Linked DNA regions of Homo sapiens: regions 1 and 2 are each reported to be linked to region 3. Evidence: microRNA targets listed by miRTarBase, many of them from high-throughput screens and not tested one by one. Region 3 holds a microRNA gene; each other region holds the end of a gene's coding sequence.
Evidence for each region. Region 3 holds the annotated microRNA hsa-miR-212-5p (ACCUUGGCUCUAGACUGCUUACU, at 4,699-4,721, shown strand). A microRNA usually pairs through its seed, bases 2 to 8, with sites in the 3' UTR of a target mRNA and lowers its output. Matches are read on the target gene's strand: a 7mer-m8 pairs with bases 2 to 8, a 7mer-A1 pairs with bases 2 to 7 and ends in A, and an 8mer does both.

Region 1 (9,387 bases), not on the chromosome of region 3:
ATTTTATCTCTTGCTTAATTTTTAGCAAAGTAGTGCATCCCCAGAGGCAATGACTTTGAACTTCAGCTGCTCCTCGGGGTGTTACTTCTGTATCTGGAACAGGTCTCTATGGTAATAAGATTTTCAATAGGATCTACTGATTTCCTGCCATGATAGGTGAGGGTTAGCTTAGATTCCATCCCTCCCCTCCTCAAAACAGCTAAATCATTCTTTTCCATGCCTTTATTGGTTGGCTTTGTAATTTCAAGCAATACACGAACATACCTATTTCTTTTTACCTTTTGGGGGGTGAAATATGCGTACAACAGTGGCTATAAAACACATATAACAATAAATAAAAACATTTGTGGAGGATCGCTTGAGCCTCCACAAGCCTCCAGAGGCTGCAGGGAGCTATGATCGCACCACTGCACTCCAGCCTGGGCAACAAAGCGAGACCTCTCTACAACATTTAACAAACAAACAAACAAACAAACAAACAGAACACTGTCAACAGTTTTAAAGCTCTTCCCCCATGAAGCCACTTCTCTGACTATCATGATAGCTGTTCTCTTGCTTTTCTTTGGAGCTCTTTTCACGTTTGTATGCATCTCTCAGCATTTAGATTTGCTATAAATAGAATCACACTATATGTATTATTCCGTGCCTCTCATCTTTCCTTCAACTTTTTTTTTTTTTTTTTTTTTGAGATGGAGTCTCGCCCTGTCGCCCAGGCTGGAGTGCAGTGACGCGATCTTGGCTTACTGCAAGCTCCGCCTCCTGGGTTCACGCCATTCTCCTGCCTCAGCCTCCCGAGTAGCTGGGACTACAGGTGCCCGCCACCATGCCCGGCTAATTTTTTGTGTTTTTAGTAGAGACGGGGTTTCACCGTGTTAGCCAGGATGGTCTTGATCTCCTGATCTCGTGATCTGCCCGCCTCAGCCTCCCAATGTGCTGGGATTACAGGCGTGAGCCACCGCACGCGGCCTCCTTCAACATTTTTGAGCTAATCCAAGTTGATGCGTGTGGCTTCGGCTCACTCATGTTCAGTGTTGTATAATCACTGGTCAAGTAGACCACAATTGGTTTATCCAGTCAACTGCTGATGGACATTTGGGTTGTGTCCAGGTTTTGCTATCACGAGCATCCTCCCAGTACACGTATGGAAGGGTTTCTGCAGTGGGATACGGGAGTGGAATCATTTGTATTCACTGTCAGACTCAGTTCCATTTGGTAACGCCAAGCAGTTTTCCAGTGTAGTTGTGCCTCCAGAGATGGTGACCTAATTGTGTAGGGTGTTCAGAAATCCCCAGGTAATTCCACTGGGAGGCTCCACGTCACACCTTGATTTCCAGCCCGTCAACTCGAGATAACACCTCTCGGTCCTCCCCCATGAACAAGGTCCCTAGCTCATTCCTTTCTGCTCTCCTCTGTCAAGATTTCTGAGTGATGATCTAAAGAGATACTAAGGGGCTTTTTCCCAAGCAAGGTCAACACGTAGGGAGTAGGCAACAAGGTTGTCAAGGTATGGACAGGAATTGGGTAAAATACCAGGACAACAGCTTGCAGGTGAATTCTTCCTTCAGGCAGTTGAAGAAAACTAAAGAAAACCCAAGGGCTGGGGAATTCTCCCAGAAGCCAGTCCTTCCCTCCAGCTATTAATTGCCTCCAGCATCTGTCTGTCTGCCAGCTATCTCTCTCTCTCTTTTTCTTTTTTTGAGACAGTCTTGCTCTGCCACCCAGGCTGGAGTGCAGTAACACGATCTTGGCTCACTGCACCCTCTGCCTCCCTTCAAGCGATTCTCCTGCCTCAGGCTCCCAAGTAGCTGGGATTAACAGGCGCCTGCCACCACGCCCAGCTAATTTTTGTAATTTTAGTAGACAGGGTTTCACCATGTTGGCCAGGCTGGTCTCGAACCCCTGACCTCAAGTGACCCACGTGCCTCGGCCTCCCAGAGTGCTGGGATTATAGGCGTGAGCCACTGTGCCCAGCCTGTCTGCCAACTCTCTCTCTAGCAGCTTAAACTGTGAGACTCACAGGCAGCCAGCATGATGTTAATAAGTTGAGGGGAATTCTAGACTCTTCAGGGTCCTACAGTCACGTTTCTTTAAAGGGATTCTAAGCCCCATCTGTGTCTCAACCCTGGCTGAACCTTAGCAACACACAGGAGCTTTACCTAGCTACTGATGCCCAGGCCCCAGGGTAGTTACATCAGAATTGCTGGAGTGAAACCCAGGCACCAATAAATTTCAGAAGCTGACCATGTGATTCTTACAAGCAGCCAGGGTAGAAAACCAGTAATCAGTGGTTCTCAAACTTTAACTAGCATCCATCAGAATCACCTGGAGGCCTTGTTAAACTGTAGATGGGTGGGCTCCACCCCCAGTGTCTGGTTCTCTCTGCCTGGAAAAGGGCCCTGAATTTGCATTTCTAACAATTTCCCCCTATTGCAAATGTCCCCAACTTGTCCCTAGAGACCCAGCCTGATCCATCAGAATCACCTGGAGGCCTTGTTAAAATGCAGATGGATGGGCTCCACCCCCAGTGTCTGGTTCTGTCTGCCTGGAAAAGGGCCCTGAATTTGCATTTCTAACAATTTCCCCCTATTGCAGATGTCCCCAATTTGTCCCTAGAGAGCCAGCCTGCAGGTCTGAAGTTATGCCTGATGCTGGCTGCACTAGTTGACCTGTGTACCTCCCTGGGGGGATCCAGGGCAGCCCCGCTCCATCTGACTGTGCGCACCTCTTCCCAACTCTGTTACGTTGTCAGGCTGCTGGCTTCCAATAGGCTATGGAAATGGCAAATGATACAACTCGGGACTCTCCCCCAATCCCTGGGGAGCTGTTAATCACAGCTAGTGGGACAGTCTTTAGGGAGGTGTGGCGCATCCTTGACTATGAAGAGTCAATGTCATCGTTAGTAGGGTCTAGAAGCACATAGGGTTTTCACTGTGGTTGCCCATAGAGCTTCCATATAAATGGAATAAAAAAGGTATATACCTTGAAAAAATGTTTTAAAATGTCCTGTGACCACAGGCTCCAAGTATTAAAAATATTTTTTTCTGATTTGTGTTGCTAATACAATGATTAGTAGTACGCAAAACCAAATAAATACATGATACAATTTGATAGTTGTCAAACATAGAAAATAAGGAGACTCTGAGGGCCCTCATTTTGAACTGCCTTCTTGTTTGGCACCTGGGGAGTCTTTACACACTGGGCCAGGAATGACAGGAGGGTGGGAAGCTGATGATCTGGAAATTGATTTCCTTTGAATGAACCATGACCAAGAACCCTTGCCCTCAGTTTGAAGACTGCAGGGCTGGTCTGTGTTGCTGAAGGCCCTCATCCCACCTCCATCAGAAAATAACCACAGGGCCAGGCGCAGTGGCTCACACCTGTAACCCCAGCACTTTGGGAGGCTGAGGCGGGTGGATCACTTGAGGCTGGGAGTTCGAGACCAGCCTGGGCAACATTGGGAAACCCATCTCTACTAAAAATACAAAAAGTAGCAGGGCGTGGTGGTGCACGCCTGTAGCTACTTGGGATGCTGAGGCAGGAGAATCGCTTGAACCTGCGAGGCGGAGGTTGCAGTGTGCCGAGATCTTGCCACTGCACTCCAGCCTGGACAAGAGAGACTCTGTCCCCAAAAAAACAAAAAAGTGCATTTCATGGGATGGTGTACATACCCACCTCTTTGCCGCATCTGGCTGGTGCATGCCCTTAGTTGCTGGGAGGTCAGGACGAGGGCAGGTTCACTTGAAACCTCAGCCCTACATAGTAACAAGCTCAAACACCCTTTTTACCAGAACAATGCTCTCCACAAATCATCAGAACCTGTGGCCTGGCTCAAACCACCTTTCAAGACATTCACATATGGGCAAGCAGCACTTGGACACTCCAGACAAAGATATATTAAAAGAGAGGGTCTTTCCAAAAGGATCCCTACTGCACCCACCAAGGGACTGGGTTTCCATATTTAATTGGGGAGAGGCTTTTATCTGTTGGGATTAATTCCCCTTACACACAGAGCCATACCCTGTATGGAGCTAACTTTCCTGTTTGGCAGACACAGGAAATCACCGAGATCAGGTTCTTGGTCCAGACCATGACATAAGAGAAAAGATTTTCTTCAGACCTTTGCATTGCCCCCAGTGATACCCTGAGTTTTCCATTTTGGGTGGCTGGAGAACAGGGTGTGTGGTGACAGATGGGGTTGAGCGGAGAGCCTGGAATCTGTCATCGTCTTTAGTAAAATTGCCTTCCTTCAGTACCCTGACCGGCAAAGCACACTTCTGACCTCTTTCTGAACTGAATTAAGAATGGCCATGAACAGTCCGGGAAGTGGTTTTGAACTTTCAGGTGCTGTCCTTAGAGCACAATGGGCCTGTGTTCTTCCCCGTGGATCCATGGGGCCGGAACCATGAATAGCAGGCGCACAGTGGGTTTTGGTGCAACTGACCTTGTCCACACATCAGAGTTTCCGGTTTCCCAATGACAAGCCTGTCTACGTATGTAAATTGATCCTGACTTTCCCTTTCTTTTCTTTGCAGTGAAATGCAAAATGGAGGACGATGCAGTACCTGCAGCCAAGATGAAAATTCCATCATCTTAACCATAGCTAAGACGTATCTTTGCCCATTCGAGCACAAGTTACCTTGTGCAAGGAAAATGTCCAAATGATGCTCTCTCTCTTGTGATTTCTTTAACAAGACTTGGAACATGTGCAAATGGAATCTTTTCTGTACAAGATAGGATTCATTGCAAACAAGCTTTAATGCAAATAGTTTAGAAAAGAAAGGACCAGTCTTCACTTTCTGCATTATCCCCACATTTTATTCATTCATCCAGATTACTTCTTCAGTGCCTCAGGAGTATTCTTCTACACCAGCTGCTGTTAAAATGTACAATGAACTCTAGTCCCAAGGAATACAGAAGTGCTCTTATTACCAGTTTTCCCACTTGTGGCCGCCTTTGCAAAGATCCATATTCTAATTTAAGTCCCCAACCTCTGAATTTGGTTTTAAGTTTACCTAGTGACTGACTACTCTCTTTATAAAAAAGACCTTATACTTAATGATCATTTCCAAAGGAGACCACTCCTTAACTTTTACTGCAAACCCAACAAGATGAGACACTTAAACCCAGACAGATGTAACAAAGGATTTTTGTTGTCTAAGTCCCAAAGTATTATATAGAAAGTTCCTGCTTTTATGGGTAAACTTATTACCTTAATATGTTCTGTGGTTTGCTGTTAACCAAGATTCTCCCATTTAAAATGCCACAGACCGACCCTCAAGGCAGATCCGAAAGCCTAGTAGTTAGTTGCACTGGGTTGTTTTGACAAGCTACCACACGTCTTAAGTAAATAGTAAAGCCTTTATTTTTGTGTTAAGAACAGCATTTTGAAAATAAAACCTATCTGCCCATGGTTTACAGCCTTTTAAATTTGTAATATTTATATAGTCGTTTATGGTACATATTGATTGTCTTGAAATTTCTTTAACTTCTTTTTTATAAGTATGCAACAGTCAGCCGGGGGAAGATAAAGGTACATTATAAAACACACATTAATGCATTTAATAAATATATATTATCTATCAAAAGTGAGCCTTAGCTCTTCATCAGTTAATAAAAAGCACCTGCTGAGAACTCCTGTAAGCTGGTATCATCATTGCATCATTGGATTATAAAAGCCACAATGCTCCCTTTCAACTTGGGGTTTGGCCTGAGGCGTTCAACTCAGCCTTGGCCAACCGAGACCACCACCCGAGTTCACCCTTGTTCAGTGGGTCCTGACGGCATCTGGGCTAAAAAAAAAAAAAAAAAAAAGCACTGGGCGCCCAGCTTCCAACAACCAGATCTTCAACTCTGGAATCCCTGGAGATGCACAGAACTTCCCAGTTTGTAAGCTGTCAGAGCTGACTCCCTTCTCTTCCCACCCTCCACCTCCAGTGGGGAGAAATCCAGGCTAGAATGACAATTTTCTATTAAAAGGGGGGACAAGAGTGGCTGTTATAGACCCAAAGCGATTTTAATAACCAGACACGGAACAATTTGTGCTTACAATGAGAGATTTTGATCACAGATGCTCTCCTCCCGGGTCGTTTTCCCCAAACGAGTCTTGTTTACACACGCAGATCTTAAACAGAGGTGCCATTTAATTTTGTCTTTAAACCTTGCTCCACGGGGGGCAGCTGGCTGCTACAGTCTCTTGGCAAAGATGTCTCTTGATACTTTTCAGGTGTAGTCATTAGAAAAAGAACAGCTCTCTCCCTTCTCCTCTCACTCCCGCCTCCGCCCCCATTATGAAGGCGTTCAGCCCACTCTCAACCTTAAAAGCCAAAATAAAACAAAACCCTAAGTGCGATAACATATCAGATTTAAAAGGGGGGAAAAAGGTCTCATTAAATGAGGCTTCCCATGGCTCAAAGATGGCTCTGTTCTTATGCTGGGGAAGCACGACTTTCCATGGCAGCCATTTGTGCTGTGCTCACCTTATATGCTTGGACAATAAAGAACTTAGAAAACGAACGTGTGAATTGCTCCATCGTGTGAATGGTATCAGAAAGCTCCAAAGGACTCCAGAGAGCGGGGGTGAGTAACCATTTCCTGGCACGAGAATGTGTAATGCTGTCGTTTTTTCACCGGACAGGACCGAGGTGTTTGAAGATTTCTTTCTTTTCAGAATACCGGGTCCGCATGCAACCGCCCCCACCCCCACCCCAGGTCCTAGCTTCATTCCCTCCCACCCCTCCCCAGGACTCTTACGTTTTCTGTCCACGCAATGACTGGAACGGGATTCTCTAGAAGCAAGCACATGCTCTGGGCAGAGGCGGGGTGCTTCCGGGGAGGTCAGGTGGGGGTGGCATTCTGGGGCCATGCGTTTTCTTCCCCATGCGTGGTAACACAAGGAAATGTACTAACTGTTAAGGAAAACTCGAAGGCGGGTCACACAGGGAGGGCCAGATTGGCCTTACTTTCCCCAGTGCTTTGCAAGGATGGGGTGGGGAGGGGAGACAGCAGAGACTAGGGCCTTGAGAAATATCAAAAGGTTTATTGAAACATACTCAGCTCAGACGTACTGGCTTATGAAGCGGTCAGTCCTCCCCCGGCCCCCAAACACTAACCTTTTTCATTTTTCTTTAAAGGTTAAAGGCTTATGGGTAGTTTTATAGAAAAAGCAATGTAGTGATTAGAGTATCTGCAGAAGGACCCACCCTCATTTATACATTCCATGCCGTCAGGTTAAAACTCTGCTTTGAATCGATGCTAGAGGTTATGCTGGCCAAACAGTGCAGAGAACATGGGGGCTTTGAATGGCCGAGATGTTCGAAATGCTAAATAACAAAGGAATGACTTGCTCAGGACAGATGGAAACCATGACAGAAACAATGGGCTTGGAAAAGGGCTGTTTTCATGGAACCTGCAGAAAAACCAAAACAAAATATCCCCCACACCCTCCAAAAGCAACAAGAAACCCTCATGTGATCCATTCCATCCAGGAATTTTCACCATAGCAACGGAAAGGACCCGAGGTGTCACTGCTTGTGAGGCAGCGAGAGGTCATCTCTGCATCCTAGTGGGAACCCCTGAAGCCCTGCTAGGTGACATCATCGCGGAAAACCTGCCGTGGTGCCTGCCTTCCAACCTGCCTCCCGGAGGGGCTTTCAGCTGGAGACCCCATTGGAGCTCTTGAAATGAATAAGGGAATAAAATTGGGAGAGGATTTGGAGATACACCCGTAAGTGTAGGAACAGGGCGAGATGATCAAGGGAAGAAGGGACTGCTGCCCCAAGCCAGAATATTTCTATGGCTCTACAAGGGAAGGGGCGGGGCCTGTGTTCTCACCATAGACACTAGAGCAAGAGCCCCATAGAAGGAACAGTGGTTGATCACTTTCCAAATGTGATGGTCACTTCATCACCCAGAGGGCCTCTTCTTTGGCACATGCCAGGGTCCCTCCACCTCTACTGGCTATAAAGCTCACCCCACGATTCAGTTGGGCCTCACCTTGGAATCCCACCCACAACCTCCTTAACTCTCCTGACCCCCCTGAAATGTGCAAACCACCAGGCAAGCCGGTGGCAAAGTCCCCATTTGTCCTCAACGCAACGGTCATCTCCAAGAGGCTACCTGGGGTCCAGCACTTGCTGGGGAGAGGTGATAAGAGTGGGAGCCCCCCACCTCCAACCAACACCAGTCTGGCCCACCAGCTGTGAATTTGGTTCTGTTCTACCCCCAGAGGATGAAACAGTCTTCCCAGCCACATTTTCCAGTGAGCCTAATACTATTTGCAATTAGCTTTGCTTTAGTTTGCGGGGATTGAGGTTGGTCTGGTATTACGTGTCTGTGTGTGTGGCAGGGGAGGGGCGGGCAGTCGGTGTTAGCTTTTCAGTTCGTCAGTGTTCACATTTACACGAAATCCCCTTGGCTAGGATTTCCAAATTTCCTGGCTGTGAGGCGGCCTGGTTCGGCAACTGTTACCGATTTCTCCCTCAAGAAAGACACAGCCAGGGAGGCAAATCGGTAAGAGAAATTCTGATTCTCTGGAACTTAAAGTCTTTCACCAAAGGTGTCTTCCTGTGTGACTTGGCGGAGCAGTTGGGATCTGGAATAACACATAAGGATAACACACTGAGAACTCTGTGCTTTGCAAAGTCAACACTAGAAACCGATGCGTAAACAACGCGGCAAAAATAAGTTACCTTGCTTTTACCTAGATGGGTCGAATAATTCCCAGGAGAGGCAGCAATGACTGTGAGTCATGCTGCTGTGGTTCTTGGGAAGCCCAGCTCCCTTTTCTATAACCATCCACCCGTAAGGAATGTAAGTTCAACTCATTCACTTTCAGTCTTGACTATTTTTTCACACACTGGCCTTGAAGGAACCAGGAGGGCTTAAGAGTGACGGATGGGGGCTTTTCTAAGCATATTTATTATAACACACAGGCCGAATGCTTGTGAATCAGGCTTTTCTTGGCTCGGGACAATAAAACAGCCCAGTCGTTGGCAGGGGGTTTTAAGAATGCAAATCTGTGATTCTGTCTTTGAGCCTGTTCCAAACCAATGCAAACCAATGCCTAGCATACCATTCAAAAGGCCAGGAAAACCTAAATTCCCTCTAGAGATCAAAGACCATCCCTGATTTACATAAAAAAAAAAAAAAAAAGAAGAATGCTCAGGTTGAGTTATGGAGTTGGAACATGATATAAAGAATGGAAACCCAATTTACACATGTAAACTGGCTCAGACCTTGTTTCTGAAAGAAGCATGTAGCTATGTTTGGAAATTAAATGTGGAGATGAGAGTGCATCTTTGGATTGCTGGAGAAACAAAATGGTGTCATTCCAAGGAGGCAAACGTAAACAATGACAATTCTGCTGAAGGTCTGTTTGGCATCAGATAG
Region 2 (9,844 bases), not on the chromosome of region 3:
GGCACCGCGGGAGGGGTTTCCGGTGACAGGCTTGGGAGACTGAGGCGCAGAGAGCGGGAGGGGCTTGTCCAGGCTCACCAAGGAATCCGGAACTGGAAATATGTACCGAGGACTTAACGTGCCCCGGGCCCTGAACTACATGCTGCTGGGAAGCAGCAACACACGAGAAAGGCAGGGACCCTGTTCCCTTGGCGTATTTGTGCTAATTGGGGAGGCCCCCGGGAAAAAAGCAAACAAACACAGTAGCTTAATTTAATAGCGAATGCCTTGAAGAAAATAAAACGTGGAGCTTGATCCCACTATCATGATATCACAGCGGTGCAGCTGTTGTAGTCCCTGAGACCAGAGGCACATGGGCGTCAAGCCAGGGGTGCGCCTCTGGAGCCCTGCTTTCTGCTCAAGCTCTTAGGGAGGTGAAGCAGGGAGACAGGCGGCTCCCATTGTAAACTCGAAGGATTCCTTTTCTACGTCTGCCTAGAGTCTAGGAAAGGACCACCAGTGGCCCTTCAATTTTGAATGGATTTATTCTTCTGTGTTTCCCAGATACTGCCGTGTGAGAGTACCTGAGGGGCTCCTGAAAGACCTACTGCCAGGACCAGTGACCCTGGTGATGGAACGCTCGGAGGAGCTCAACAAGGACCTAAACCCTTTTACGCCTGTGAGTCAAGTTTTCTCTTGTGTCCCCAGACTCCAGGCCACTTGGCTTTCACTAGGATCCAGATAAGACTTACCCTCTTATCCCTTCCAACCTTTCTCATGATCCCTTTCCCCTTGCCTTACAGCTTGTAGGCATTCGGATTCCTGATCATGCTTTTATGCAAGACTTGGCTCAGATGTTTGAGGGTCCGCTTGCTCTCACTAGTGCCAACCTCAGCTCCCAGGCCAGTTCTCTGAATGTCGAGGTGAGTTTACCCAGTCCTTCCCCTGGAAATGTCACCAGCGCACATACTGTTTTCTGTGAATCAGTGGCATTGATAGTACACTGGGATGGCCAGGCATGAGAGTTCTTGGGCCAACAGTGGGAAGGTTGCCCAGCTGGCAGGGAGGTGGTGGGGGGCAATATAAATTAAAAAAATTTGAAAGATTTTATCTCAAAGTCTGAAAAGCCAGGGGGAGAATTGGTCTTTTCTTCAGTCTTTATAATAATAGGAAAGATTATAAGAACAATGTCTTCCTGTTTTTCTGGAGATAACAGTTTCTGGAGAACACAGTTAGGCTATAAATCTTCACGACAGTGCTGTAAAGAAAGATGAAGAAGGCCAAGGGCAGTGGCTCATGCCTGTGACCCCAGCACTTTGGGAGGCCCAAGCAGGTGGATCATGTGAGGTCAGGAGTTTGAGACCAGCCTGGCTAACATGGCAAAACTCCATCTCTAATAAAAAATACAAAGATTAGCCAGACATGGTGGCGCATGCCTGTAATCCCAGCTACTTGGGAGGCTGAGGCAGGAGAATCACTTGAACCTGGGAGGCAGAGGTTACAGTGAGCTCAGATTGTGCCACTGTACTCCAGGCAGGGCTCTAGAGCGAGACTCTGTCTCTTAAAAAAAAAAAAAAAGATGAAGTTTAGCCTCCAGAAAGTTAAATCACTTGTTCCAGGTCACACAGCCATTAAGTGACTGACTCAGATTTTTAACCAGTTTTTGATTCTCGCCCCTGTTCTCTTATCTCTGCCACAAGCCAGATCAAAGAAAGGATCATCCTAATCCTTTCTTGGCTACATAGATTAGAACAAAGGAGGACACATAGAAATTTCGTTTTTTTTCTTATTACTAAGATGTAAAACGTAGTAATAAGCTACATTGTGTCCCCAGACTCGGCCAGACACATAGTATCACACATAGTATCCAGCATCAGGCCTTGGGCCTTCCTTGGGCTTATTACATCCAGCTAATAAGCCTGGATAGAGTAACTTGCGTGCAGTCACATAGAGATACGATGGAAAGTCCAGAGTTAGAGCCCGTATCCCTGCTCAGAACTCCATTCGATGGGTTTTCCATTCCCAGACCTAGAGTGGGGCTCAGGGTTCTTAGAAAGTGAGAGTTCAGCATCCCTTCCCATTCTCAGAGTGCAGGTTTGACTTGGTCCTGGTGGCTGTACCCCAGGAGCAAGAATCGGGATGTGGCACAGGGAGGGGAGGTTTTTACCTTGTCAGCAATCATTTGACCTGTCCAACACAGTAACTGGTATTTATGATTTCCTGTCCCAGATTTCCAGGCCTAACTGCCACTGCAGTGTCTTCCTTGGGGGGTTGGGGAAGCTCTAGCTCAGTTAACAATTCAGTCCACTGCTCTAGGGGGAGTATCCTTCTCATAGCCCAAAGACTGAGTGCTGGTGGCATGCAGAATCTACCATGTTCTACTCTTCCTACCCTGATCAGAGTCGCAGTGAGATCCAGGAGCATAGTTCTAGAGCTAGAAGGAGCTGGAATCACTTGTTCCAGGTTACGCAGCCATTAAGTGACCAGATTTTTACCTAGTTTTTTTTTGTTTTGTTTTGTTTGAGACAGTCTCACTCTCTTGCCCAGGCTGGAGTGCAGTGGCACCATCTCAGCTCACTGCAACCTCCATCTCCCGGGTTCAAACAGTTCTCCTGCCTCAGCCTCCCGAGTGAGTAGCTGGGATTACAGGCGTGTGCCACCATGCCCGGCTAATTTTTGTATTTTTAGTAGAGATGGGGTTTCACTATGTTGACCAGGCTAGTCTCAAACTCCTGGCCTCAAGAGATCCAGCCTCCCAAAGTGCTGAGATTACAGGCGTGAGCCACCATGCCTGGTCTTTTTACCTAGTTTTTGACTCTTGACCCTGTTCTCTTATCTTTGCGGCAAGCCAGGTCAAAGAAAAGATCATCCTAGTCCTGTCTTGGCTACATAGATTAGAACAAATGAAATGAGGACATAGGATCATCTAGTCCAGCCCACTTGTCTTGTAGGCCTGGATAGAGTAACTTGCATGCAGTCACACGGAGATACGATGGAAAGTCTAGAGTTATAGCCCGTATCTCTGCCCAGAACTCCATTCATTGTACTTATATTTCCCTAACTGAAGCAATGTGTGAAATTTCCTTTTGACATAGCAAGATTTTCTTTAAACCCTAGATAGGTGTTACTTGGAGTGCTAACCCAGGAGGCCTCCAAACCTCATAGAATACAGTGTCTTTGGCACAGTTGACCTTAACTAAATGAAGCTCCTTTCTCTGCTTAGAGGAAAGTGCCTTCTGTTTTAAGACTATATGGCCTTTGATGACTGCGTGCAGTTTGACATTATTGGATACACCAGGGATAGTGTCCATGCTCTTCCTTCTCCCTCTTCTCAGGAGTTCCAGGATCTCTGGCCTCAGTTGTCCTTGGTTATTGATGGGGGACAAATTGGGGATGGCCAGAGCCCCGAGTGTCGCCTTGGCTCAACTGTGGTTGATTTGTCTGTGCCCGGAAAGTTTGGCATCATTCGTCCAGGCTGGTAAGTCTCTTTCCTGTGGTGTGGGGAAATAATTTGAGGGAGGTTGGAGAGATGCAAAAAAGCTTTGACAAGATAAAGATGGTGCCTCCTATGTTGCCCTGAAGGAGTGTGGGCCAGGTTTGGAGAAGTGGTAGTTGCAGTGGGACTAAGTTTCCTGGCTTTCTTAGGATTCAAAAGGTTTCATCAAGGGTTGATGAACAGGGCTTAACAAGGCTAGCCAGTTTCGATGTCCCTGCTCACCAGCCTCTGGTGGGCTCGGGACTTCTGAGAAGTCAGACTGGTAACTGTCCTGTTTCCTCCTCAGTGCCCTGGAAAGTACTACAGCCATCCTCCAACAGAAGTACGGACTGCTCCCCTCACATGCGTCCTACCTGTGAAACTCTGGGAAGCAGGAAGGCCCAAGACCTGGTGCTGGATACTATGTGTCTGTCCACTGACGACTGTCAAGGCCTCATTTGCAGAGGCCACCGGAGCTAGGGCACTAGCCTGACTTTTAAGGCAGTGTGTCTTTCTGAGCACTGTAGACCAAGCCCTTGGAGCTGCTGGTTTAGCCTTGCACCTGGGGAAAGGATGTATTTATTTGTATTTTCATATATCAGCCAAAAGCTGAATGGAAAAGTTAAGAACATTCCTAGGTGGCCTTATTCTAATAAGTTTCTTCTGTCTGTTTTGTTTTTCAATTGAAAAGTAATTAAATAACAGATTTAGAATCTAGTGAGAGCCTCCTCTCTGGTGGGTGGTGGCATTTAAGGTTCAAACCAGCCAGAAGTGCTGGTGCTGTTTAAAAAGTCTCAGGTGGCTGCGTGTGGTGGCTCATGCCTGTAATCCCAACATTCTGGGAGGCCCAGGCGGGAGAACTGCTTGAGCCCAGGAGTTCAGAATCAGCCTGGGCAACATAGCAATACTCCGTCTCATAAAAATTAATAAATAAAAAGTCTCAGGTGACCAAAGGCTCCTGAAGCTAGAACCAGGTTTGGATAAAGATTGAAGAGCCACAGGCCACTCTTCCCTCTGAGCCATTGGGCCTAGTGGTGTCATGTATTGTAATTGCTCGCAGGGAGAGCAGTCTTTTTGGTGTAATAGTGGGATGTCTGCTTAGTTGGCAGGGGTTCAGTCCAAATGGAAGAATATTGGGAAATAAACCTCCACTATCCTTTATAGCCAGGGACTTTTTTCTTATTTATTCATAAAATAAATTATAGTTAATTATACCCATAACACCTTTATTTAAATCCAGTGTTCTCCGCAGCCTTTTGTCTATTTATATGTGTACCAAGTGTTAAACATAATTATTATTGGGCATTTGAACTTTGTTTTTCTTTAAAGAAATGCTGCTATTAAACATATTTGTAAATGGTTTGTTTTTCTTCTTTTGAATTATTTCCTTAGGAGAGTAGGTCAAAGTGTAGGAAGTATTTATGGCTCTCAGTATGGATTAGCCTTCAAAAGAACTGAGTCAAGTTACACTGCTGTTAGCAGTGTGTGAGAATGGCTGCCTCTGCCCCCTGGCCTTCCCATGTTTAGTATTTTTCAGATTGTGTGTGTGTTAAATGAAGCCAGTGTTGCTACCTTCTGTAAATTACTACAGGTCAACATCCAACCCTTTCAGCTGTCCCTGCCTGCCTTGGTTTCCCCAGCTAAGCCCCAAAGCCAGGTGGCCAGGCCTGCTCATCTCTCTGGTGGGGCTTAATATCAGTTACCTAACTGGGGCTGGGTGTCCTTGAGGTGACCACTGGGGTCTATTTCCTCCTTCCTCCCCTTCCCTCTTGTACCCTAGTTCCCAAAATTCTGATTCAGTCTTTTTTTTTTTTTTTTGAGACAGAATCTCTGTTGCCCACACTGGAGTGCAGTGGCACGATCTTGGCTCGCTGCAAACTCCGCCTCCCAGGTTCAAGTGATTCTCACACATCAGCCTCCTGAGTAGCTGGGACTACAGGTGTGCACCACCACACCCTGCTAATTTTTTTGGTATTTTTAGTAGAGATGGAGTTTTGCCATGTTGGTCAGGCTGTTCTTGAACTCCTGGCCTGAAGTGATCCACCCGCCTTGGCTTCCCAAAGTGCTGGGATTACAGGCATGAGCCAAGGCACTCAGCCCATTTTTTACTTTTTTAAAGACACGTCTCTCTGTGTTGCCCAGGCTGGTCTCGAACTCCTGAACTCATCCTTCCACCTCAGCCTCCCAGAGTGCTGGGATTACAGGCATGAGCGACCACGCCTAGCTTCCAATTCAGTCTTGAGCCCATAAACTTCTCAGTACAGTGGTTTCCAATGCACCTGTTTCCAAGTATATCCTAAGAATCTTGTGTTAACAGGGGCCTGCTTTAATCAGGGTTCCTGCAATTAGCGTATTAGTTTATTGGTAAATAAGCACTGGTTTGTTAATTCCCTCTAGAAATCTTGTTTAGTAATGTTTTTTGTGTTTTCTTTTTGTTTGTTTGTTTGTTGTTTTTGTTTTGAGACAGTCTTGCTCTTGCCCAGGCTGGAGTCCAGTGGTGCCACATTGGCTCACTGCAACCTCCGCCTCCCAGGTTCAAGCGGTTCTCCTGCCTCAGCCTCAGAAGTAGCTGGGATTACAGGCACCCACGCCCAGCTAATTTTTGTATTTTTAGTAGGGATGGGGTTTCACCATGTTGGCCAGGCTGGTCTCGAACTCCTGACCTCAGGTGATCCACCTTCCTTGGCCTCCCAAAGTGCTGGGATTACAGGTGTGAGCCACCACGCCCAGCCTTGTTTAGTAACTTTTTTTTTTTTGAGACGGAGTCTCGCTCTGTCGCCCAGGCTGGAGTGCAGTGGCGTGATCTCGGCTCACTGCAAGCTCCGCCTCCCGGGTTCACGCCATTCTCCTGCCTCAGCCTCCCAAGTAGCTGGGACTACAGGCGCCCACCACTACGCCTGGCTAATTTTTTTGTATTTTTAGTAGAGACGTGGTTTCACCCTGTTAGCCAGGATGGTCTCGATCTCCTGACCTCGTGATCCGCCCATCTCGGCCTCCCAAAGTGCTGGGATTACAGGAGTGAGCCACCACGCCCAGCCATTGTTTAGTAATTTCTTAAGCAAACCTACTTGTTGTGGTAAAGCCATAGCCAGCCCAGCTCCTGTATCAGTTTGTCACAGAATCTAAGGTCAGAATCTGTGAGGTCTTAAAGAGAGCAAAAGGAATGCTTACTTGAGAATACCAGTTCATATTTAATTACTACTAATCACAGTAGCACTGAACATGGCTCTAGTGAGTGGGCCTCAGTCAGTTCAGGCAGCTAAAGGGAGGGGGATTTCCTCCTAGTCCTCTCCCTAGAGCTAAATATGCATCTGGGAAAAATTAGGCTCTGGAGCACAGAGGTATTTTTCTAGAGGAAAAAGAACTGAACTCCCAGCACTAGGTAAAACTGCAAAAAGAAAAACACCTGTGCCCAGGCACTAGCTACAAGGCCACACCAGAAAAGGAAAGCTGGGTCCTGGAAGCTTCAGGACAGGAACTCTTCCTTGGTCAAGTTTTCCCCAGCACCTAGCACATAGGAAGGTGCTTGATGAGTGAGTGTTAAATGAACCTGTGAGTGCTCAGGATGATTTCCTGATAATTGGGTTCAGGAATCTACTGGGAGGAGCTTAAACCTAGAAGTTCCCTTTTTGAAAGTCTCAAATATGGTTCCCTAACTTAGAGAAGACAGATGATGTGGGAAGGAGGCCTGAGGAGAGGATGCAGGCTGGCAGAAGGGAGCAGGGTGCATGCGAGCCCAGACCCTGACACCCTTCCAAGGGTGGTGACTGGGTGGCCACTACACAGCACCAGCCTGCTGCAGAGTTCAAAACTAGAAGGGGTTACATGAAAGTGTTCCCAGGATGTGGAGCTGCCCTGGGCTAAGTTCAGTCACCTGCCAGCCTCTGCCGTTCCCATCACCACAGAGCACCTCAGCACCACTCGCCTGAGGAACGGGCTCTGTGTTGCACAGGCCCATGCCTGACGGCCCACCCAGAAACACCCATCTGCTGACCTCTGACCTGGGAACGAGTGAGTGGCTACAACCTCAGCTGAACCCCACATGGTGACATCTTCCAGCAAGGCAAGGACATCAGCACCTCACGCCCATTTACAGGCCCCTCACATGAGCCACTGCTCCTTCTCTTTGATGAAGTGCTCCGCCCAGCGGCGTGTCAGCTCCAGGTACAGGCTGGGCTGGTGAGGCAGGTAGTCCAAATACAGGCGGGTGGGTGTCTTCTTGGGAATGGCCTTCTCAATCTGGGTGCCCTCGTGCCACTCATTGAAGGAGGTAATGGAAACGATCTCGGGCCTCACTGTCAGGGCCGCCTGCAGGGCCGTCTCATAGTACTTGCCATTGACCCTGTTGCGCGTATTGTGGTTGTTCCAGGGCCGAATGCTGGTGTCTATGTAGCCAGGCCCCACACTGGGGATGAACATGAGGTTGTTGGCATCACAAAAGTTCTTCACAGCTTTCCAGTTCTGATGGGAAGAACCAAAGGAGAAACCATTGGAGGCAAAGTAGGTGTACATGCCGTCAAATCCGGCGGCCAGGATATCGTGGGTGTGGCCCTCCTCCACCAGCAGCGCTATGAAGACCCCATCGTAGGGCGTGTTGCGGATCGAATGGGGCCCGTTTGGTGTCAGGAGGTGGGCCCAGGCCTCAGGGGACGTCAGGTATGAGTCGTAGATATAAAAGAGTGGGAGGCTCTTGCCCATGCTGTTCTTATAGCGGTAAAATGCACCATGGGAGCCATACCTGAGAAGGAGAAAGAAGAGCCTCAGCTGGATGGGAGAGACCAGCACAGCTGTAGGACCTCCCGTGGATGAGATACGGATGCAACACAGCCCAGTTCTGGAGCCAGTCAGTCTCCACAGTTGGAGTCATCATGCCTCTAAGCAAGAACCTGGTTCCCTCCTTCCTCTCTCCAGTTGTCATTCCTAAGCCTCACTTCCCTACCCTTAGCCAAGCCACCACCGTCTTCCATCTGGATTGCAACAACAGCCAGCTAACTGGTCTCCAGGCTCCCATCCTGCCTCCATATAATCCATTCATTATTCCCACCTACTTGATCTGGCCCTGCCTACTCCATTCCTGCTCTTTTCCCAGCTATTACTCCCCATCTGGCCTTTCTATCCGGCTCTCATGTGTCATGCAAGCTTGTTCCATCTTATGGGACTTGCATCTGCCAGCCCTCTGCTTGGAATTTTCTCCCTGCCTCCGGATCTTTGCAGAGCTGACCCTTTTTCTTTTCTTTTTTCTTCTTATTATTACTACTTTTTTCTGAGATAGGGTCTTGCTCTGTTGCTCAGAGCTGGAGTGCGGTGGGCGATCTCAGCTCACTGCAACCTCTACCTCCTGGGGTTCAAGTGATTCACCTGCCTCAGCCTCTCAAGTAGCTGGAATTACAGGCACCCGCTACCATACCTGCCTAATTTTTGTATTTTTAGTAGAGATGGGGTTTCACCATGTTGGCCAGGCTGGTCTTGAACTCCTGACCTCAGTCAATCCACCCACCTCAGCCTCTCAAAGTGCTGGGATTACAGGTGTGAGCCACTGGGCCTGGGCTTTTTTTTCTTTTTTCTTTTTTTTATTCTTAAGTCTCACTGTATCGCCCAGGCTGGAGTACAGTGGTGCCATCGTAACTCACTGCAACCTCAAACTCCTGGGCTCAAGTGATCCACTCACCTCAGCCCCCCAAATAGCTGGGACAATAGGCATGCATCACCATGCCCAGCTAATGTTTAAAAAAAAATTTGTAGAGATAGAGTCTCCCCATGTTGCCCAAGCTGGTCTCAAACTCCTGGCCTCAAGTGATCCTCCCACCTCAGCCTCCCAAAGTGCTGGGATTACAGGTGTGAGCCACCACACCCAGCCCTGACTGCTCATTCAGGTGTTAGCTCACCTGTTGTCTCCTCAGACTCACCTGACCTGACTATCCATTCTTAAGTAGCATCGTGGGCACACTCTAGCACAAAATCCTGTACAGATCACTGTTTGATTTTTCCCATTTAATTACTGTCTGCTCCACAGTACCTGCAACATACACTAGAAAGTAAACATTATGAAATCAGAAATTTCGCTAGTCCTACCCATTACTGTACAACTGGGCTTAAGTCAGTGCCTGGACACATGTAGGCACTCAATACTCTCTTTTTTTTTGTTTGTTTTTTTAAGAGACAGAATCTTGCTCTGTTCTCAGCTGGAATGCAGTGGTGTAATTGTGGCTAACTGTAACCTCAAACTCCTGGGCTCAAGTGATCCTCCCACCTCTGCCTTCCAAGTAGCTAGGACTACTACAGGCATGCACTGCTATGCCCAGCTAATTTTTTTTTTCAGTAGAGATGGGGTCTTGCTATGTTGCCCAGGCTGATCTCAAACTCCTGGCCTCAAGCAATCAATCCTCCCAC
Region 3 (9,844 bases):
GCTGCTGCGGCTATGGCGCCACCTCGCGGGCGCGCAGGGCTCTGCGCGGCAGGCCGCTGCCTTCCTCCCGCGCACCTGAGCTGGAGGCGCACAGATGCTGAGCCCGCGGGGAGGGGCCCACCCTACCCGCAGGTTCGCCCTCCCACCTGTACCCACCTGGGACCCCGACCCCGGACACGCGAGTCCCAGAAACCCTGGGGCTTTGAGCTGAGCGCTCCCATGTACGTATTTCTAGGCACACAGCCCCAGTTCGGAAAAGTCCTGCCCGCGAGCACGGGACTCGGGTGGTGGGGGAGAGGTTATCCTGCGCAGGAGTAGCCGAGCTCTCCTGGAACTCCCCGTAGACATTACTGTACGGCACTGTCCACTTGGACGCACTCCCCAACACACCCACCCTCACTCAGGCGCATGGATTCGGTGTGCGCGGCATAAACTGATTTGTCCCCAGCCCTATCCAGGCACTGATACTAACAGGCGCTCATGTTTCCAGAAGCACACCCGCCCCTTCCCGCAGCCCTAGCGCTCTGGGATACTCCAGGGGCAGCCACGTAGGGCCCTCCGGGAACCTGGGCAGAGGTGTTACCCACACAGCCCGCCCTGAACTTTCGGGTCTCCTAAAGGAACCCACGACGAGTCATCAGGGCGACTGGAAGTGGCTGGACAGCGCCTCCGGGGGGTCCAAAGAAGTAACCATGGGGCCCTAGAATCCCCCTGTACGCCGTTTTGAAGAATCCCGCGTGGACTTCTTCTCCAACCCACCCGCCCGAAGGAAACAACAGGGGCGCCTGCGGCTGGGACCCCGCAAGGTCCCGCGCCCCACGTGAAGGTCAGGTTTGTGTGGGTGACGTCTCTTCTGGGAGAAAGGGGACCCCGCACTGTCGCGCCGCTGCTCGCAGTACTACTCCGGAAGTGGCCCCGTGCAGCCCCGCCGCGCACCAAGCCTCCTGCGAACGCCGGATCTCCGCGGCCCACGCTCCGCCTCCGCCCCGCACCTCCTGACCCCCGCCCACACACGGCGTGGAGCGGGGGGGGGGGGGGTCCCCGAGAACTCCGCCGCTTCCGATTGGCTGCGCCTCCCTCCACCGCGGAGCGCGAGGGGCTGGGGCGCTGCGTTACCATGGCAACCGGTGAGGTGCGCCCAGATCCTGTCCCTCCGAGGCCTTGGAGAGCTTAGCAACCGCGCTCGCCGCCCCCCGCGCTGTCCTCTGGCCCCCATGGCCCCGCCAGAGGTACCGGCTGAGTCACCGGGCGAGGGGCAGCGGGCGCGGCTACCAGCGGCCCCCGAGCGACACCAAGGTCTCGGGCGCCCCCCGGAGGCTCCCTTTGCTGCGCAGGCGACTTCACGGCTTCGGTGCCTGGCGGAGGCTTCGGTCCAAACGAGTCCGCCTGATTCCCGCCGCTGCCTGAGTCCGCCCCATGTTCTGGATCCATCTTACCCACTCCCTCTCCCATGTCTCCCCATAGCATCCTCACTTTAGAAGCAGTGAGGTCCCAAAGAGGAAAACGGAGGCCTCCGGAGCTGCCGGTCTCTAGGGAAGGCGGACCCCGACATCTCGCCCGAGGGACGTGCTGCGGCCTGAGGTGGAAGTTACGGAGTGTTGAGGGGAGGTGGAGAGGCTCCTCATAAGTGCTCCTAGAGCTGGGCTTTGACGGATGAATAGGAGTTCTTCTACCGAGCAGGAAGGCATTTGTGAATAACAGAATCCCTGGAACAAAGGCTAGCGGCAAGAAAACTGGAGCTCTAGTAGGCCAAATCCAGACTATGCAGGGCCTCTCTGACCCCATCTCTTTTATCTTTTCTCTTTTTGATAGAGTCAGATCCCCCACCCCCGACTTCCAAAGAGCCCCTCCGCCCCATGTATCTTGTGCAGTGGAGTCTGTGCATTGCTAACCTGCCCCAGGGGTCTGCTGTGCCCACAGTCTTTATTCTTCAGCGTTCCCCCACATCCGCTCCCCAAGTTAACTTACTGCCCCTAACCCCATCCTCAAGCCCTCATTGCTTCTGTAAGGGAGGGTCTCACAGCCCTGCCCCAGCCCAGGCCCCTAACCCCATCCTCAAGCCCTCATTGCTTCTGTAAGGGAGGGTCTCACAGCCCTGCCCCAGCCCAGGCCCCTAACCCCATCCTCAAGCCCTCATTGCTTCTGTAAGGGAGGGTCTCACAGCCCTGCCCCAGCCCAGGCCCCTAACCCCATCCTCAAGCCCTCATTGCTTCTGTAAGGGAGGGTCTCACAGCCCTGCCCCAGCCCAGGCCCCTAACCCCCTCCTCAAGCCCTCATTGCTTCTGTAAGGGAGGGTCTCACAGCCCTGCCCCAGCCCAGGCCCCTAACCCCCTCCTCAAGCCCTCATTGCTTCTGTAAGGGAGGGTCTCACAGCCCTGCCCCAGCCCAGGCCCCTAACCCCCTCCTCAAGCCCTCATTGCTTCTGTAAGGGAGGGTCTCACAGCCCTGCCCCAGCCCAGGCCCCTAACCCCATCCTCAAGCCCTCATTGCTTCTGTAAGGGAGGGTCTCACAGCCCTGCCCCAGCCCAGGCCCCTAACCCCCTCCTCAAGCCCTCATTGCTTCTGTAAGGGAGGGTCTCACAGCCCTGCCCCAGCCCAGGCCCCTAACCCCCTCCTCAAGCCCTCATTGCTTCTGTAAGGGAGGGTCTCACAGCCCTGCCCCAGCCCAGGCAGGGTGAGGACCGCCTTGCCCTCCTGTGCACTTCACTCTTCGACCTTTCTCTCCCTGCCCCGCTCTTCCGGCCATGCCTTGCACAGCCCTCCCCATCCTGGTCCAGCTCCTCGTCTGAACACACTCCTCTCATTTAGACCCTTCCTCCATCTCGATGGAGCCAGGCTGGGCCAGGACCATGCATTTCCCCGCTCCCAACCAGGGGAACTGCCCCACAAGTCATGGGCTCTCCCTGCCAATTCTGGTCTCCGGGAACATTAACTTCTCCAGGAAACCGTCCTCCTCATCCCCTGGGGGCCCCTCTTGGCCAAGCTGCTGGTCTCCTTCACTCTCTATTACCCTAACGTGAGCTCTGGGAGCGTCCATCGTGCCACAAATGGTCCGAAGGTGGGTCCTGGATGCCAGGCTCTGGAGCGTGGCACTGACAGCCTTTCCTCTCTCCCTTGCTGAGGCTGCCCATTCCTCTCACCCCTACCTCTGGCGCGTTCCCCCAGCTCCCTCATAGAGGATCCCGTTGCTCATCATTTCTGGGGAGGTTGGCCCACCTTCCCCAACTTCTCTGCCGTCCCTCGGGTCTCCAGCTCCTGGGTGGTACCTGAATCCCCGCTGGGCCTTCCCTCCCAGGCCCAGGTTCCTCCGCTAAAGACTCCTGGGCTACTTTGGGCTCCCCTACTCTTCTTCTCCCGGCCCCCGACGCCACAGCCCTCGCTGCGCCCCAGGCCCCCACGGGAGTCCAGCTTCCTCTCCTGCCCACCCTGCAGGACGAGAGGGTGGCGACACCGCAGTGGCCTTGCGGGGTGTGACGGCAGAAACGTCAGGTCCAGGAACTGAGGAGGGGGAAGGGGCTGCCACGTGAAGACCCCCAGGAGCCGCGGGGCTCCGGAAGGAGAGCGTGAATAAGCTCGAAGGGCCCGCCGCGCCCCTCCGCGCCGCCTCCCCGGCCCCAGGCCCGCGGTTCCGGAAAGTTAACCCCTTGTCGGCTGGGCAGGGGCGCGGCTCCCCCTACCCCGCCGCCGCTTCCGCGCCCCCTCCTCCCCTCCCGGTCGCCTCGGTCCCCACCCCCCGCCTCGCCACTATAAATAGCCCCTTTTCCCATTTCCTAAATTCCCCGCTGACGTCGGCAGCGCGTCAGTGTGTAGGAGCCGCGGCCGCATGAATGAGCCGCCGCACGAGTACTACGCGCGCCTATAAAAGCCGCCGCGCCGGCCAGGCTGCGGGAGGCGACCGGGCAGTGGCGACGCGGCCCGCCAGGTAAGCGGGACGGACCAGCCGCGGAGGGACAGATGTGCGGACACGGACGGGAGGACGAGGAGGGGACGGGCAGGCGGCGGGTGGGGCGGCCCCTCCGGGGTGGGGATGGGGGCGGACGGGGGGCACCGGGGTCCCCTCGCGGCTGCGGAGCCGGGGCCAGAGACGACACGAGCCCGCGCAGCACCTGCCGGCGCCCGATGGACACGCAGCTACTTCGGAGGAGCATCGAGTGGAGGACCGACCTCGGAGACCCCCCCCCGGCTTTCTTGGGGCTCCTGCGCCATTCTCCCAGGAAAGTGAGGCGAAGGTGCTGGCGCCCCAGGAGACGCGCCCCCTCCTCTCCCTCCCTGCGGCGCGGTGACTCAGCCTCGCTGCCCGGGCCGGCTGAGCGGGGGTGCAGGCGAGAGACGGACGCCCACCCCCGCTTCCCCGGCCCTCCTGGGACCCCCGCCCCGCATGGCGTCGGGCGCCCCTTCCCGGCAGGTCCCGTCCAGCGGGTCCCGCGGCGCCCACGGCTTCCCGCCTCTGCGAGCGGAGCTGTCCTCTCAGGACCGGGGGGGCGGGGCCTCCCAGGTCCCGCCCCGCCCCCACGCCCCCGCCGGAAGTGCCCCCTCTGGGACATCTTTGACGTCACGGCCCTCTGACGTCAGGGGCCGCGTGCCTGGTCGCGAGCGCCGGGCGGGGCAGGGCGGGAGACGCAGGGGAGGCGGAGCAGCAGAGCCCCCAGCCGGGGCAGCCGGGGCGACCGGGGCACCCCGCCCGGACAGCGCGCCGGCACCTTGGCTCTAGACTGCTTACTGCCCGGGCCGCCCTCAGTAACAGTCTCCAGTCACGGCCACCGACGCCTGGCCCCGCCCCAGGACCGCGGCCCCGGCCGCCGCCGCCGCGCCCGGGGACCCCCAGTCCCCGTCCCTCAGGGCCCCGCCCCCGGCCCGCTGCCTGCGCCGCCGCTGTCCGCGGTGCTGATCAACGCAGGCGCCGCCATCGGGCCGCCCCGTCCGGGTCCCTAGGGGCTGCGAGGGGCGGTGGCCCACGCGCGCTCCTCAGCCCCCGCCGCCCCGCCCGCCCCCCCGCGGCCCTGACGTCAGCCCGCCCCGCGCCGGCGCCGTCCGCGCGCCCCGCCCCCGCGTCTCCAGGGCAACCGTGGCTTTCGATTGTTACTGTGGGAACTGGAGGTAACAGTCTACAGCCATGGTCGCCCCGCAGCACGCCCACGCGCCGCGCCACGCCGCGCCCCGAGCCGCGGGCTGGGGACGCGGAGCAGAAGGAGGCGGGGGCGGCGAGTCAAGATCCCACGTGCCCGCGCGGGTGGCAGGAGGTGCTGCGCAGGGAGGCGGCCTCCCGGGGCCGGCGGCTGAGTCCACCGAGGCTCGAGCGCGCGCGTCCTGCGGAGTGCGTCTGGCGGCCAGCCTGAGGCCGTCCTGTCCTCCCGGCCAAGGTATCCCAGCCAGGGCTCGGCGAGAGAAGGGGTCGGGCTGGGACTCGGGTTCTTTCGATTTCGGTGAGAGGGAAGCCACTGGGACCAGGAGGCTTGGAAGGAGGTTTGTCTCCTGGGGCCTGAAGACAGTAGAGGGAGGAAAGTTTTCTGAGATACTCCACAGCCCCGTTCTTCCAGGAACCCCTAGCTGAAGTGGGCATTGGGCGAAGAGTAAACTCTTGAATCTTTCCCTCTGAGCTAGGAGGATAAGAAGGGTCCCCAACCCTCTGGAAGCCAATGAGCTTGTAAAGTTAACCTGGTCCGCGAAGCGTCTGAACAGATCAGCCTGCTCACCTCAGCCTATCTCTAGGTGCTGGATTCCAATCTGAGACAGTTTCTCAAATTAGCCCTAAAGAGGAGTGAATACCACAGGGGCTGAAGTCCTCTGGTGCGGATGAAGTGTGAACAAGGATCTCTAAAAATATTATTGTATATGTCGCCTGCCTCTGCCAACATCACCCACTACAGGGGATGTCTATTGAATATCAGGTGTGAGACTTCCCCAGAGATAGTGTTGGGAATGGTTAATGCAACCCAGCCCACGACACGTTAATCCAATTTTTCTTAACGTCTCACGCCCCACCCCCTCCTTCACTCCCCACCCGGCTCCTTTGTGAAGTACTTCTAAGACACTCGTGCCGGTTTCCCAGTTAATCAACACCCACATGCTAGCCATCCCACCTCCCCAGGGCCCCGAGGTCTTGCAGATTAAAACGCACTTGCTTCTGGGTTCCAGGGGATGTCAGTGGGTGGACTGCAGTGGACTGCTGGGTGTAGTGCTCTGGGAAGCCAGAGGTCCAACCTGGCATTATCAGCAACTGGTGGTTAAGGGGCCATATTCTGTTTCTGAGCTTTCTGTAAAACGGGATAATAATCTCTTCTCCTCGGCAGGTGCACTGTGAGGATTAAATAGGATCATGTAAGTAAAAATCCAAAAACAGCAGAATGTTATTTTGATCTTAAGTATTCTGTTAGGCTACTACATGTTTGTGAAGGGGTGGTGTTGGGAGGGGACCCCAGCTCTGTGCACTTAGGCAGAATGAACGGGATGTGGGGGGTACACCTTGAGCTTTAGGCTATATATATTTATTGTCTAATATATATATAATCTATATTATATATATGTTATACATACATATACTTTTATTTTTTTTCTTCTGAGACAGTCTCGCTCTGTCGCCCAGGCTGGAGTGCAGTGGCACTATCTCGGCTCACTGCAACCTCCGCCTCCCGGGTTCACTCTGGGCCTGGGGCTGTTGAGAGGTTCCTTGCTAAGGGGGTTCTCTCTCCTAAGAGCTCTAGGAATCCAAGGTGGAATCAGAGGTGGAAAACAGAAATGGTTGGGATATTCTGAGAAGAGGTCAGAATGTGGTCAGAGGGGAAAGAACCAGAGGATTGACCGTACGTCAGGGTTGTTTAGCATCTTAGAAATCATTTAGGGCAGGGCACAGTGGCTCACGCCTGTAATCCCAGCACTTTGGGAGGCATAGGTGGGAGGATCTCTTGAGCCCAGGAGTTCGAGACCAGCCTGGGCAATACAATGCGACTCCCATCTCTACAAAAAAGAAAGAAAGGAAAGAAGAAAGGAAAGAAAAGAAAGAAAATTAGTTGTGCACACCTGTAGTCCCAGCTACTTGGGAAGTTGAGGTGGGAGGATTGCTTGAGGCTGGGAGGTTGAGGCTGCAGTGAGCTGTGATTGCACCACTGTACTCCAGCCTGGATGACAGAGTGAGACCCTGTCTCAAAAAAAAAAAATCATTATTTAGGGCTGGGAGACATGGCTCATGCCTGTAATCACACCATTTTGCGGGGCGGGGCAGAGGCTGGAGGACTGCTTGAGCCCAGAAATTCGAGACCAGCCTGGGCAACATAGTGAGACCCCATGTCTTAAAAAAAAAAAAGCCAGTGTGATAGGTGGCACCTGTAGTCTCAGCTAAGCTACTCAGGAGGCTGAAGCGGGAGGGTCACTTGAGCCGAAGAGGTCGAGGCTGCAGTGAGCCATGATCCTGCACCTGGTGACAGAGGTAGACCCTGTCTTAATAATAATCCAGCCTGGCCAATATGGTCAGACTCCGTCTCTACTAATAACACAAAAAATTAGCCAGCCATGGTGGTGCTTGCCAGTAATTCCAGCTGCTTGGGAGGCTGAGGCACTAGAATCACTTGAACCCAGGAGACGGAGGTGCAGTGAGCCGTGATCGTGCCACTGAACTCCAGCCTGGGTGGCTGAGTGACACTCCGTCTCAAATAATAATAATAATAATGGTACCTACCTCATGAAGTTGTGAGATTAAACATGAAGTTGTAAGGTTTAAGCTATATATATTTATTGCCTAATATATATAAAATATATATGTGTTATATATATATAATTTTATTTGTTTTTTTCTTCTGAGATGGAGTCTTGCTCTGTTGCCCAGGCTGAAGTGCAGTAGCATGATCTCGGCTCACTGCAACGTCCGCCTCCCAGGTTCAAGCAATTCTCCTGTCTCAGCCTCCTGAGTAGTTAGGACTACAGGTGTGTGCCACCACCCCCAGCCAATTTTTGTAGTTTGTTTTTTTTTCTTTTTTTTTGGAGACAGGGTCTAGCTCTGTCTCCCAGGCTGGAATACAGTGGCACAATCACAGCTTACTGCAGCCTCAAAACTCCTGGGCTCAAGTGATCCTCCCACCTGAGCCTCCCGAGTAGCTGGGACCACAGGTGCATGCCACCACACCCAGCTAACTTTTAAATTATTTGTAGAGAGGGGGTCTCACTATGTTTCCCAGGCTGGTTCTGAACTCCTGGGCTCAATTGATCCTCATGCCTTAGCCTCCCAAAGTGCTGGGATTATAGGCATGAGCAATCGCACCTGGCCCTAAATTAGGCCGCATTAAAGCTCTTGCTTATTACAATGTCTGGTATACAGTTATTACTCAATAAATGCTCTTCTGGCCGGGTGCAGTGGCTCACACCTGTAATCCCAACACTTTGGGAGGCTGAGGTGGGCGAATCACTTGAGATCAGGAGTTCAAGACCAGCCTGGCCAACATGGCGAAACCCTGTCTCTACTGAAAATGCAAAAATTAGCTGGGAGTGGTGATGCACACCTGTAATCCCAGCTACTCTGGAGGCTGAGGCAGGCGGATCGCTCGAACTCAGGAGGCGGAGGTCGCAGAGAGCGGAGACTGTACCACTGCACTCCAGCCTGGGTGACAGAGCGAGACTCCGTCTCAAATAAGTAAGTAAATAAATAAATGCTATTCCTATTTCTATCCTTCAGACCTAATTTTCCTTTGCTATAAATTGAAAATGTTTAAGCAGTGATTGTTCTGGGGAGCTTGCTCCCCTCCCTGGTGGGTTGCAAGAGAGTCACACTAGGGGTTTTTCAGATAACACACCCTCACCCGAGGCTTTCATTCAACCCCTAAGGCAGTGGCTTTTCAAATCCCTGCTTGGGAATGATGGGGGCAATTTGCCAAAATGCAGATTCCTGGGTCCCAGTGATTCTGACTCAGTACATCTGGAGTTGGCCCCAGAATTCAAGTTGGTTTTTTGAGATGGAGTCTCACTCTGTCACCCAGGCTGGAGTGCAGTGGCACAATTTCGGCTCACTGCAACCTCCGCCTCCTGGGTTCAAGCAATTCTCCTGCCTCAGCCTACCAAGTAGCTAGGATTACAGGTGCATGCCACCACGCCCAGCTACTTTTTTTTTTTTTTTTTTTTGAGACAGTTTCGCTCTCGTTGCCCAGGTTGGAGTGCAATAGCGTGATCTCGGCTTACCGCAACCTTTGCCTCCCAGGTTCAAGCAATTCTCCTGCTTCAGCCTTCCAAGTAGCTGGGATTACAGGCATGCGCCACCATGGTTGGCTAATTTTGTATTTTTAGTAGAGACAGAGTTTCTCTCTGTTGGTCTGGCTGGCCTCAAATTCCCAACCTCAGGTGATCTGCCCGCCTCCGCCTCCCAAAGTGCTGGGATTACAGGCATGAGCCACCACGCAGGGCCAGAATTCAGGTTTTAACCAATGTTCTGGATGTAAATGGTACACAGAATCTGCGTATTGGGGGTGGGGAGGGGCACAACCCCCTAAGAGTCTCTCTTGCTCCTGGACGGCATGATGGGAAGTGACCTGTTCCACTTGTCGAGAACTAGTGGACCCCATGTTTCCCTCTAGCTTGGACACTATGGTTCTCAGGAGGAATCCTCACCCCCGGCCAGGAGCCCTTCTCCTCCACCTACTACTGCTGGGCTCTACCTCCCCCACTTTTAATTTTAAGCCTTGGCTCAAAATTCACTCCCCAATATTTCTCCCCTTCTCTCTACTTTCGTCCTCAATAATCCCAAGCAGCTGGGGTGTACAAGTCGTTTTCACCTCTTGGGACCGTGCTAAAGGGGGCAGCCTATGATTACCATGAGGGTATGGGAGCCCTGAACTGCAAATCTATCATTTCCAGAGAAGCCAGA

Region 1: miRTarBase lists GPRC5B as a target of hsa-miR-212-5p. Seed matches in the 3' UTR shown: 7mer-m8 at 8,408-8,414 and 7mer-m8 at 5,726-5,732.
Region 2: miRTarBase lists MANEAL as a target of hsa-miR-212-5p. Seed matches in the 3' UTR shown: 7mer-A1 at 6,937-6,943.

The regions. Positions count from the first base shown.
Region 1 is chr16:19,851,955-19,861,341 of GRCh38, forward strand. It overlaps GPRC5B (G protein-coupled receptor class C group 5 member B), which reads right to left. Exons shown (of 4, transcript NM_016235.3): 4 at 4,737-8,590. The coding sequence ends at 8,546. IQCK (IQ motif containing K) reads left to right here. Exons shown (of 9, transcript NM_153208.3): 9 at 4,533-6,513. The coding sequence ends at 4,594. Among named protein-coding and RNA genes, the nearest start is that of GPRC5B, 28 kb to the right of the region's middle. RefSeq lists enhancers at 1,243-2,161, 2,162-3,081, 6,232-7,431, 8,705-9,286.
Region 2 is chr1:37,797,915-37,807,758 of GRCh38, reverse strand. It overlaps MANEAL (mannosidase endo-alpha like), which reads right to left. Exons shown (of 4, transcript NM_001113482.2): 4 at 6,626-8,192. The coding sequence ends at 7,556. It overlaps YRDC (yrdC N6-threonylcarbamoyltransferase domain containing), which reads left to right. Exons shown (of 5, transcript NM_024640.4): 2 at 544-658; 3 at 783-902; 4 at 3,315-3,457; 5 at 3,762-4,814. The coding sequence ends at 3,834. Among named protein-coding and RNA genes, the nearest start is that of C1orf122, 5.0 kb to the left of the region's middle.
Region 3 is chr17:2,045,205-2,055,048 of GRCh38, reverse strand. MIR212 (microRNA 212) reads left to right here and starts at 4,669; the gene lies at 4,669-4,778. MIR132 (microRNA 132) reads left to right here and starts at 5,041; the gene lies at 5,041-5,141. LOC124903896 (a long non-coding RNA gene) reads left to right here and starts at 5,100. Exons shown (of 2, transcript XR_007065576.1): 1 at 5,100-5,888; 2 at 6,291-6,342. RefSeq lists silencers at 1-162, 913-1,382, 4,386-4,535, 4,546-5,345 and an enhancer at 2,945-3,840.